3 linked regions of the Homo sapiens genome follow. The protein of the gene in region 1 interacts with the protein of each later gene in a biochemical or structural test. Each region holds a gene or a part of one and is shown on either strand. Other genes may lie near its edges. The genes, in order: IRAK1, PPP3CB and IRAK4.

Region 1 (3,600 bases):
CAGTGCTGGACACGTAGGAGTTCTCCTGCGGGGAAGGGGGGATGCAGCTGGCGGCCTCCGAATGCCCGGGCACCCCCGCCACCACTGCCTGCAGCTTCTCTAGCCTCTCGTACACCTGCAAGTGGAAAAGAGGGACTCTCAGGGTGAGATGGCAGCCCTGGCCGGTCACCCCGTGGGCAAACCACAGGGCTGCTCCAGGCCGTCCGTGACCTGCCCCAGGGCTCTAAAATGACATACCCTGCAGCTGGGAACGCTCTGCCCCTCGCCCCTCTGTTCCCATCACAGGGAGTGCTGAGAAGCGCGGCTGCCAAAAGCAAGGACTGAGAATGGCCTCGTTCTTTTCTACAAAATGAATCTCACTGCCCCGCTGCCCTCAAACGGGGCCTCTCCATTTTCAACTGTCACCAGAGGAGAAGAGGTGGGGTACTAGGGAGGGGACAGAAAAAGGCAGATGCAGTAGTGCAGTGCGCCCAGCAGGGGGCGCGGCAGCAGCTCTTTCCTTCTCTCTATGTGAAGGGGGTCGGAGCTGGGCTCCGCAAAGCAGGACTGCCCGGGGCCCCTCAGTTCAGAGGGGCGCTGCCCCAAACAGAACCAAAGGGCAAGCAAGAAATGTGTGGAGACTCCAGAGAGACCTAGCAGGTGCTGAGATGGGGTCACTACAGAGCAAGGCCTGGAATGCGGGCTTTCTATCTGGCCACCCCGTCCCAGTGCGCAGCTGGCTACCTGGGTCATAGGAGGCCTCCTTTTGGCCCGGCGGTGCAGGCAGCAGCAGGCCAGCTGGCCCAGGCCCAGGCCCAGCTCAGGTGGGCAGGGCCCGGGCCTGGGGTCCAGGTGCTTCTTGTAGATCTGCATGGCGATGGGAGCAGCCCAGGCATCTGCAGCCAGACCTGCTTGCAGTGTGCTCTGGGTGCTTCTCAAAGCCACTCCAGCCTCCTCAGCCTCCTCTTCCACCAGGTCTTTCTGTGGGATAAATACTGTCAGTATGGCTACCAGGTGGCCACACCTGCAGCTGCAGTCCTCAGGTCCTTGTCACTCAATCGTATGGGTTTTGATAAAAAAAAAAAAAAAAAAAAAAGAGATGGGGTCTCGCTTTGTTGGCCTGGCTGGTCTCCAAGTAGGCTCAAGTGATCCTCCCGCCTCAGCCTCCCAAAGTGCTGGTGTTACAGGTGTGAGACACTGTGCCACAGCTCTTGGTCTTTCTACAACTTACTTTTTTTCTGAGACAGGGACTCATTCTGTCACCCAGGCTGGAGTGCAGTGGTGCAATCATGGCTCAGTGCAGCCTCAACCTCCCAGGCTCGTGATCCTCCCACCTCGGCCTCCCGAGCAGCTGGGATTACAGGTGTGTACCACCATGCCTATCTTGCTATGTTGCCCAGGCTGGTCTCCAACTCCCAGGCTCAAGCGATCCTCCTGCCTCAGATTCCCGAGTAGCTTCTAGAGATTTATTAAACACCTACTGTGGGCCAGTGGTGCTCTGGGCCCTAGGGATACAGGAACAAACAGAACCCTGGGACCCGGTTTGACAGAGCTGACTTCCTGGTGGGGGAGAGCCCCATGGAGCTGGGGTCTGAAGGCAGGAAGTAGCCTGAGAGGGCAGAGCCGAGAAGGAAAGCGCCCCACAGAGAGGTGCCCCACAGACAAAGAGGTACCCCAGAGAGAGAGGCGCCCCGCAGAGAGGCGCCCCCAGGGTGGAAACAGGACCGGAGGCCATCTCCAGTTCTGAAATCAGACAGACCAGGAGGAACCACCTGGGTGGGCGGTGGCTTTTCTCGCAGAGCGAACGGCACATACTAAGGCTGTGAAGCAGGCAGCAGGGAGCGCCCCGAGTCCCAGGGACCTGGGGCGTTGGGGGGTCAACCACATAAGGGACTGGGCCTTCACCCCAAGAGCAGAGAAAAGGCAAAGGGGCCTTTGAAAAGAGCACTTTGGCTGCAGGGTGGGGAGCAAGTGGGGAAGTCCAAGGACCCCCAAGGAGCCTGGTGCGCTTCTTCAGCAGGATGCATGGATGGACGGACGGGGAAGGGAAAGGAAGGAGGGCTCAAGCCCGGCTCCTGGGTTCTCAGCGGGGCTGAATCCTGACGGAGACCCCACAGCACACAGGAACCGCCCCAAACAAGAGGAGAAGCAGTGAAGCAATTACTGGCTGAGCACATTCTGTGAAGTCTGTTTTGCATATGGGAAAACAGGCCCACAGGGGAGCAGGAATTTGCTGGAAGGCCACTGTCAGGCTGGGGCTAAAACCCAGGTCTCTAGTCTCCTGGCCCCACCACAGTCCACGGTGAGGCAGACTGAGTGGAGTAAGACCGTGAGGCAGCTCAGGCTGCCCTGCACGGTGCGGAGAGCTCAGCTGCAGCCTGCTGGGGCCCAGGAGGTTCCTCGGGGCCTGCTTCTTCTCTACCACCGCCTTTCTCCGGCCAGAGTCCTCTGAGTTCCACTGCAGCTTGGGTCTCAGTGCCCTGGGACCGCCCTTCCCCCTGCCCCCAGCCCAGGTGGGGTCTGTACAAGGCCCATAGTGTCTGCAGGACAGACAGGTTTGTCCTCGGCAAGGTAAACGAAGTTGTTTGGAGCCCTGCCTACTTTCAAAAATGAGGCCACTGTGGCAGCAGAGGCATCCATGGGCACTGCGCCCCAGTTATCCCCGCCACTGGGGCTGTGCCTGCTGGCTGCCAGCAGCTGTGTGTCCCTCCTGGCCCTGCCTCAAGGGGCTCACCAGATACTTGGTCCTGGCACCGTGCGTCTTCACAGCCCTCTGACCAGCCAAGGTCTCTAGCACTACCTGGAGAGAGGGAAGAGGGAGAGCATGGCAGTGGCCTTGGCAGGGAAGAGGCCTCTGGTGTGGACATGGATTGGGCCTGACAAGGGTGTGGACAAAGGCAGAGCCAGATGTTATGGGACTGAAGCTCGGGCAACTCGGAGAGCCCACTTGAAGACAAATTACAAACACACAGTTAGGTGCAGGGTGAGGAGGAGGGCCTCGGAGGGAGGGGGACCCTGGAGCTGCAGCCTCCTGGGGTCTTGGCAGATGGCCCCTGGCCCGCAGTGCACTCTGCAGCCCCCACCTCTGCCTGCCTGTGGCTTCTCCTCCTCTGAGCCAGCAGAGGGGTCAGTGGCTCACCACCCCAAAGCTGAAGGTGTCCGTGTCCACAGCCAGCCTTCCCGTCTTGATGTACTCCTCGGGCAGGTAGGCCAGGGTGCCCCGCACTGTCTGTGTCCGGGCCACCATGCTGCTCTGGCTGGGGCTGGACCCGGCAAAGCGGCTGAACCGGGCCAGGCCAAAGTCTCCCAGCTTGGGTGTCAGCCTCTCATCCAGAAGGACGTTGGAACTTGGGGAGAGAAGACAGTGGCGTCAGCCCGGTCCTAGCTCCTACACCTGCCCGGCTTAGATAAGGCTGGACTCGAGGCTGCCAGCCCGGTGCCTTGCCCACAGAAAGCGCTGGCACTGCCCTGAGCGCTCCAGCTGCCTGGGGGCCTCTGCTCATCAGTAGGGCCCATCCTTGGCCCGTTCCCACACCTGTGCGATGCCGGGGTGTTGAGGTCCCAGGCCATGCCTGATCCCCACATTGATAGGACGCGGGGCCCCCCTTGCTGCAGGCCCTG
Region 2 (3,652 bases), on another chromosome or scaffold:
CAGTGTCAAAAGTCACAGAAGTAAATACCACAGAGAATAAATCTTACTGCACACAATTTTTTTAAGGAAAGCATCTTCCCCTATAAGAATCAACAAAAATATGCAAAGTTATCTGTCTTATGAAGACAAAATATTTGCTCTCTCTAAAATTATTCTCGATGATGTTATGTCTTATGAAGCAAAATATTTGCTCTCTAAAATTATTTTGGATGACAGAAAAGTCATCACGTATTGTTAAAAATAAGTCAGTCAAATCTCTAAAAACAGGCCAGGCACGGTGGCTCACGCCTGTAATCCCAGCACTTTGACAGGCCAAAGCAGGCAGATCGCTTGAGGCCAGGAGTTTGAGACCAGTCTGGCCAACATGGCAGAACACTGTCTCTACTAAAAATACAAAAATTAGCCAGGCATGCTGGTGTGCACCTGTAATCCCAGAGACTCAATGGGTGAGGAACAAGAATCACTTGAACCCAGGAGGTGGAGGCTGCAGTGGGCCGAGATCGTGCCACTTGCACTCCAGCCTGGGCGACAGAGCAAGACTCTGTCTCAAAAAAAAAAAAAAAAGAAAGAAATCTCTTAAAAACAGCTCAACCCTTCACCTTTATCGGCCAAATAAGGCAAAATTAGAACTGTACTTGAGGTTAAAATCATTTTAATACTTGCTTTATTTTATTCTAAGAGTCAATGACTACTTTATTCTTATTACAGGCAAGATGACTACATCATCACAACAAAATTCAAGGTTCATCCATTTTTTCTGAAAAATAAAAGATAATAGCATGCTCATGTCAGAAAAGCTGAGGGGTTCCTCTTGCCTACAATGAATACTTTAAAATGGGCAGTGAAGCAGGAAGCCAATATAGAAACACAAGAAAGACAAAACTCTACCAAATCAAACTATCATTTACTTTTAGAGAGATATCATGCACTTTCATTTGCTCCTTTACAACTTTAAATTCCTATTTTGGTTTTGATGAGATTTTGGTAGGTGGTTTGTTATTTATCTAGGCAAAGAAAAAGAACTTAGTTCCTATTTCCTGTTTTAATACTGTAATATTCAAATATTAAAAAAACTATATATATATCCAGCAACCAGAGATTCTACACTGGCAGTCTGCTAACGACTCTGTTTTCTAGCACTGTGGTTTAATAAAAATTCTAATTTGACTGCTTTTAGGTCAAGCATGCACTTTCCAGGTCTTATCTTACTCATTTAGGTTAACTGCCTGATCCTTGAAGTTATAAGAGTATGCCACTTCTGCCACTACCCATCACTGTATTTTTCTCCTGTTGCTGCAAGTCTCTACTTAGTATGACCTTTATTGGATCATGTTTTGAGTCTCAAAACGTTGAAATTATTTCTGCTTTTAGAATTTAACTCTACTTAATACAGTCATAAATATTAACTTAAAAAGCACAAAGGCAGGCCAGATGCGGTGGTTCACACCTGTAATCCCAGCACTTTGGGAGGACGAGGCAGGTGGATTACTTGAGGTCAGGAGTTAAGAGACCAGCCTGGCCAACATGGTGAAACACCGCCTCTACCAAAAATACAAAAATTAGCAGGACGTGGTGGCGCATGCCTGTAATTTCAGCTACTTGGGAGGCTAAGGCAGGAGAATACTTGAACCCGGGAGGAGGTTGCTGTGAGCCGAGATTGTACCACTGCACTCCAGCCAGGGCGACAGAGCGAGACTGTCTCAAAAAAAAAATAAAAATAACAAAAATAATAAAAAAGCACAAAGGTTTGAGGTGTGAAAAAGGCCTAATCTTGTTCTGTAACATATGGTTACTTACAGGTATTAGATTACCATTGCTATAATAATTTGAGAGAGAAAAGGGATAAACATTGCAGGTTAAGAATTTCACCAACTGTACCTGACTAGTCTTAAAACAATGATATTTAAAAAAACAAAAAAATTTTAAGAAGAATTTCAATCATTAATAGCATGATTGAAATGATCTGCAATGGTAACAGGATAAACAATTTGTTAGGATTCCTCACAGGAATGCCTCAAGATTGAAGGACAAAAATCTCCAATGCAAAATAACATTTTTTTCTTTTGGTTTTTATTTTTTCCTGTTAGAAAAAATATATACATTTTTTTTTCCTGAGACAGAGTTTCGCTCTTGTTGCCCAGGCTGGAGTACAATGGCGCGATCTCGGCTCACTGCAACCTCCGCCTCCCAGGTTCAAGTGATTCTCCTGCCTCAGCCTCCTGAGTACCTGGGATTACAGGCACATGTCACCACGCCTGGCTAATTTTTGTATTTTTAGGAGATGGGGTTTTGCCGTGTTGGCCAGGCTGGTCTTGAACTCCTGACCTCAGGTGATCCACCCGCCTCGGCCTCCCAAAGTGCTGGGATTACAAGCGTGAGCTACCGTGCCTGGCTTAGAAAAATTAATTGTAACATTAAAACTTATATATAAAACTCTAAGTATGTTTGTAAAAGTTAAACATAATAAGAAATTCTGAAATGAAAAAAAATTTTTTTTTTTGAGACAGGGTCTGACTCTATTGCCCAGGCAATTGTCCGTGCAGTGGCATGATCTCAGCTCACTATGACCTCCGATTCCCAGGCTCAAGCGATCCTCCCACCTCAGCCTCCTGAGCAGCTGGGACTACAAGAGTGTGCCGCCACACCCAGCTAATTTTTTTTTTTTGTATTTTTGGTGGAGATGGGGTTTCACCATGTTGGCCAGGCTGGTCTCCAACTCCTGAGCTCAGGCAATCCCCCTGCCTGGGCCTCCCAAAGTGCTGGGATTACAGGCGTGAACCACCATGCCCCACCAAAAACTTCTTAATACCATTAAACACCAGAGAGTGCTCGACAACTTTCCTCAAAGCTTTATGTGTGGACATGAAATCTGTCCTTACATGTTGCACTGTAAAGTCTTCAAAACTCTTACTACCCACTTAAGTCCAAAAGAATACTGAGGAAGTGAAAACATTTCTTCTGGCAGTACTCACATTCCTGCTTAAAGGTAAAATATTCAGTAAGGTGTCTGCATTCATGGTTGCCTCTCAGAAGAAATAATGTGCTTGGGTATAGAATCTTCAGAACCCATAAATATAAGACACACTGCAAAAGAAAATTTTTCTAGTGAATTTATCTTGTACTTTTGTTTAATGAAGCTGCTTGATCTTTGCTCCTTTTCCTCTACTACCCTTACCATCCTCTATTATCTTTCTTTGTCCCTTACTAAAATATAAGCACCACAAAATCACAGATTTTGTCATCTTATTCACTTTTGATTCTCCACTCCCAGAAGAGTACCTAGCAAATAGGAGAAGAGCAATAAATATTTGTTGAATGAATGAGTCAAACAATCTATTTAATTACTTTGGATTTACAGACTGCCCAATATAAAAACAATTAGCACACTGGTCTACAGATGCGTATTAGTAAATAATACTGTCAAAATAACAGCAGCTAACATTTATTAAGTACTTACAATATGTGAAGCACTATATAATTCCCCTAATTTATTCCTCAAACAACACTATGAAGTATGTAATATCATCTTTATTTTACAAATGAGAAACTGAAGCAAAGATCTCAAGTAACTTGTCCAAAACCACAAAACTTCTAAGTGATGGAGATAGGATTCTGATCCTCTGATCTTAAGCATTATGCCATGCTGCCCATG
Region 3 (3,652 bases), on another chromosome or scaffold:
ATATCAAAAAATTATCTTTAAACATTGGCTTAACACAGTTTAAACTTAAGCTTCTTTCAAGTAATTTAACATGTTCGCTCTTCTTATGAGGAAATATTTCCTGCAAGGGAGCCAAGTCTTTTAGGTTCTTTCCCAGATTAATGCTGAAAATAACAAATAGTCTTCTTTTCCTTTTGCTACCAAAGAAACATTTTGACATAGGTTTTAACTGCAATGACTGACAAAAATAAAATATGCATGCATATTTTACACTAAATTGAGCAGAGATGAGTAAAAAGGAAAAATTGAAATTATCTGAAGACAGCACTGAGAAATCCTAGCTAAGATTTAAGAATTCTGTGCACAGAAGTGTACACTTGTAAGCAACAACTTTAAAACGTCAAATTGAAAAAGTCCCAAAATACATTGTTAGAGTGTGTTAGAGATTCACACACTTTGAAATTTAAGCTCTAGATTTTTACCAGACATTCTTGTAACATTCTTATTTTCCTTCAATCTGGAAATGAGAAGTGTGAGGCAGAGTGAACTTCACTTGGCTTGCCAAACAGGGAACCACAGCAAAGGTGGGAATCTTGATTCTAACCCAAAAAACTTATTTGAGAGATCACAGTATTAGCCCTATTGACATATGGGACAAAGAAGACAAAACTGCAAAAGGAACAATCAAAAAGAGGTTACCTACTACCAATGTCTCCTCCATAGTGGAGAGGTTTACTTTCTAAACTGCCACATTAGACAGTACTTATACCAATTAATCATTCCATATTGTGATGTAAGAATTTAAAAATACAAAGAATTTTATCTGTTACCTTATGTGAAACTGATTGTATCTATCATCACCAGATGGTTTTTTAATAGCTACAGCTAACTTCTTCCATCCTTCTTGAGGATCAATAAAATCTGACAGCTTCCTAATTAGTCCAACATTGAGGCAGCGCACATATGTTGATGGTGTTATGGGTTTGTTCATCTTCTATTCCTAAAATATGGAAAAATCTCATTAAAATTTTACAGTACTTTTAGAGATGACATCTGTAAGCTTATATATCACACTTTGCTATATCATATGAAATGTCAGCAACTGATTATACCATAATAAAGAAACATTCCAAAGTCAAGTCATTGATATCCTAAGATGAAATTAAAATTGTAATTCATTTGTCCAATTATCCTCTGGGTTTGCTTCCTTTTTCCACCCATTAATAGCAATAAAAATCGGAGGACTTTTTTCTGACACTGATATTTTCCTAGTAAAATTTATAGAAAGGGGCAAAAAACTTACCAGAAAAATTCTTAAGAGTAATATCAACAAACTATCAGAATTAGCATATTCAGAAATCAAATCTATTAATAAAAACATTTACCTTTCAATTTATGTTTCTCAATTAGTACTTATTTACAATTAAAATTTATGCAACATTCTTTGGTAGAAGTAAAAAAAAAAAACGTACTGAAATGATTTGTGTAGCATTAACAGATATGGTCCACCCACCCACTTTTCACATACTTTGCTCTTCCTTGACCTCTGCACATTTTTTGAGTCCATGAGATCTGCCTGACCACAATTCATTTGCTACTACGCCAAAACCTGTGCTTCACCACTTCAACTACTCTCTAGACAGAATCTTTATTTCTGCAATCCCCCTTTACTTCTGCTACTCCATCCTGGAGAGCTGCAGCCAGGGATAAATCTAACAACTTTACTTGTACACCAGGGTTGCTGATGTGAATACAAATTTATGGTAACCCCCTTTCCACAGGGCCTTCAACACTGCCGTTAATCCTTCCACTTGTCTTCTCTCATAGTCCTTAGTGACTATTTCATACCTTTACTTCTTTCTATGTGGATTTTATTTGTTCTGCGTGTCCCTCATTCTCAATAGGAAATGATCTTTCCTTCCAATTAAGACAAATAGACTCAGATATTCTTCTGTCAATTATTTTTGCTTCCCTATATATATTTTAAAAATACAATTTTAGAGTAAATAATGTGTTCATATGGAACAACATTCTAAAACTATCAAAAAGAGTAAAAAGCGAAAAGCTTCTCTGTATCAGAGGCTTCTATGTTAGTATTCACTTCTTCTCTTTGGACTTCTTTGACCACATCTAAATAGGTCTAGCTGCCCTTCACCTAATTATCTTTCATCACTGCACAATGTATTTGTAATCATATACTTATTTGTTTACCTGTTTACTGTCTCCCATATTCGATTTTAAGATCCATGAGTTCAGGACCATGCTAATTTTATTCATGAATATACACCTAGTGACTTGCATACTGTAGATAATGGTATTGTTCAGTATTTACTTTTGGAACAACTAAATTATTTCCCAGTACAGTTTTATCATCTCTATTTTACAAAGGTGGTAAGTGAGAGATCCAGGACTTACAATTATGTCTGACTCCAAAAGTCATGCCATACAACTCTGCTTTTATAACACAATGCATTGTTCATGCCATTCTCTATTTCAGAAAGACCATTCCTTTCCTTTCATTCATGAATACATTCAGAAAATATTTATGTCAGTCTTTGTACTAACAAGTGGGAGCACAGAGAAGAGAAAATCTTTGTTTCCAAGCTGTTCAGTATACCAGGGGATACAAACAGTGACAGGGAGTGATAAATGCTGCAAGAATGTTATGGGGCCCAGAAAAGGGGCATCAAGCAGAGGCAGTCTGGAATAGGGATATCAAGACAGATTTGGTTGGAGTAGGAGGTTGGAAGGATGAATGAAAGGGAATGAGGATAAGCCCAAAAGAAAATTCCAGGCAGAGGGAATAGCATGGGAAAAGGTAAGAGCATGTGTGTCTCAGGCAAAGAGCTTGCTATGGCTGGACCACAGGATGCCTGTGATTAAGTGAGAAGAGATGAGGGTGGAAAGGTAGCAGGGCCAGATCATCATGTACCTCATGTGCTAAGACAAAGAGTTTGAACTTATAAACTAAAAGTTACAGGAGAGCCACTTTAGGATTTTTAGGAGGGATGTTAAATAATCTTATATGGTTAAGTGGATTCCTCTGGATAAAAATCAAAGGGATGTATATTGAGGCAAGAAAATTAGTTTGAAAACTTCTGCAATAATCCAGGTGAGCAGAAAGGAGAGCTTGGAAAAAGTATAGGGTAGGGGAATGGAGAGGTAAAACGTCAAAACATTTAGGAGGCCAAATCAAAACAATTTCACTAGAGATGAGCGATTAGAAGAAAGGGAGATAGAATGAAGTTTTTTTTTTTTTTTTGGCTCATGTTAAATGTGAAATATCTACCTTTGGCACTATCTAGGAGCCTTCATACCAAGTACTTATATATGTGGTCTGGAGCTTAGGAGAGAGGTTTCAGCAAAGAATGCTCATTATGTAAGTATTCTCATATATAAGGGGTTTTCAAAGAGTTCATGGAAAATGCATATCGTGCAAAAACCATGCATGGATTTCAATTTTTTTTTTTTTGCAAAATGTATTTCCAAAATAAACTCATACTAACTTATCATTCATGTCTAAACAGGATCTAGTTGAGACACTGAGAAGAATAAGACAGTTTGAAAAGAACCTCTACCACAGCAACATGAATTCTGCTAAAACTAAAGCAAGAACAAACACCACATTTATGGTGGAGGTTGGTTGGAAGAATGGTGAAATCACTGATGCTTT

What was found.
Region 2: the proteins of IRAK1 (region 1) and PPP3CB form a complex in vitro, tested with the Homo sapiens proteins (one study listed by BioGRID).
Region 3: of the proteins of IRAK1 (region 1) and IRAK4, one has a biochemical effect on the other in vitro, tested with the Homo sapiens proteins (2 studies listed by BioGRID).

Annotation. Positions count from the first base shown.
Region 1 is NC_000023.11:154,013,319-154,016,918, forward strand, and holds part of IRAK1 (interleukin-1 receptor-associated kinase 1), read right to left. Parts: intron 3,327-3,600; coding exon 3,119-3,326; intron 2,780-3,118; coding exon 2,714-2,779; intron 961-2,713; coding exon 724-960; intron 116-723; coding exon 1-115.
Region 2 is NC_000010.11:73,471,947-73,475,598, forward strand, and holds part of PPP3CB (serine/threonine-protein phosphatase 2B catalytic subunit beta isoform), read right to left. Parts: intron 3,085-3,652; coding exon 2,973-3,084; intron 1-2,972. UniProt on the Homo sapiens protein: Calcium-dependent, calmodulin-stimulated protein phosphatase which plays an essential role in the transduction of intracellular Ca(2+)-mediated signals.
Region 3 is NC_000012.12:43,765,430-43,769,081, reverse strand, and holds part of IRAK4 (interleukin-1 receptor-associated kinase 4), read right to left. Parts: intron 980-3,652; 5' UTR 971-979; coding exon 810-970; intron 1-809.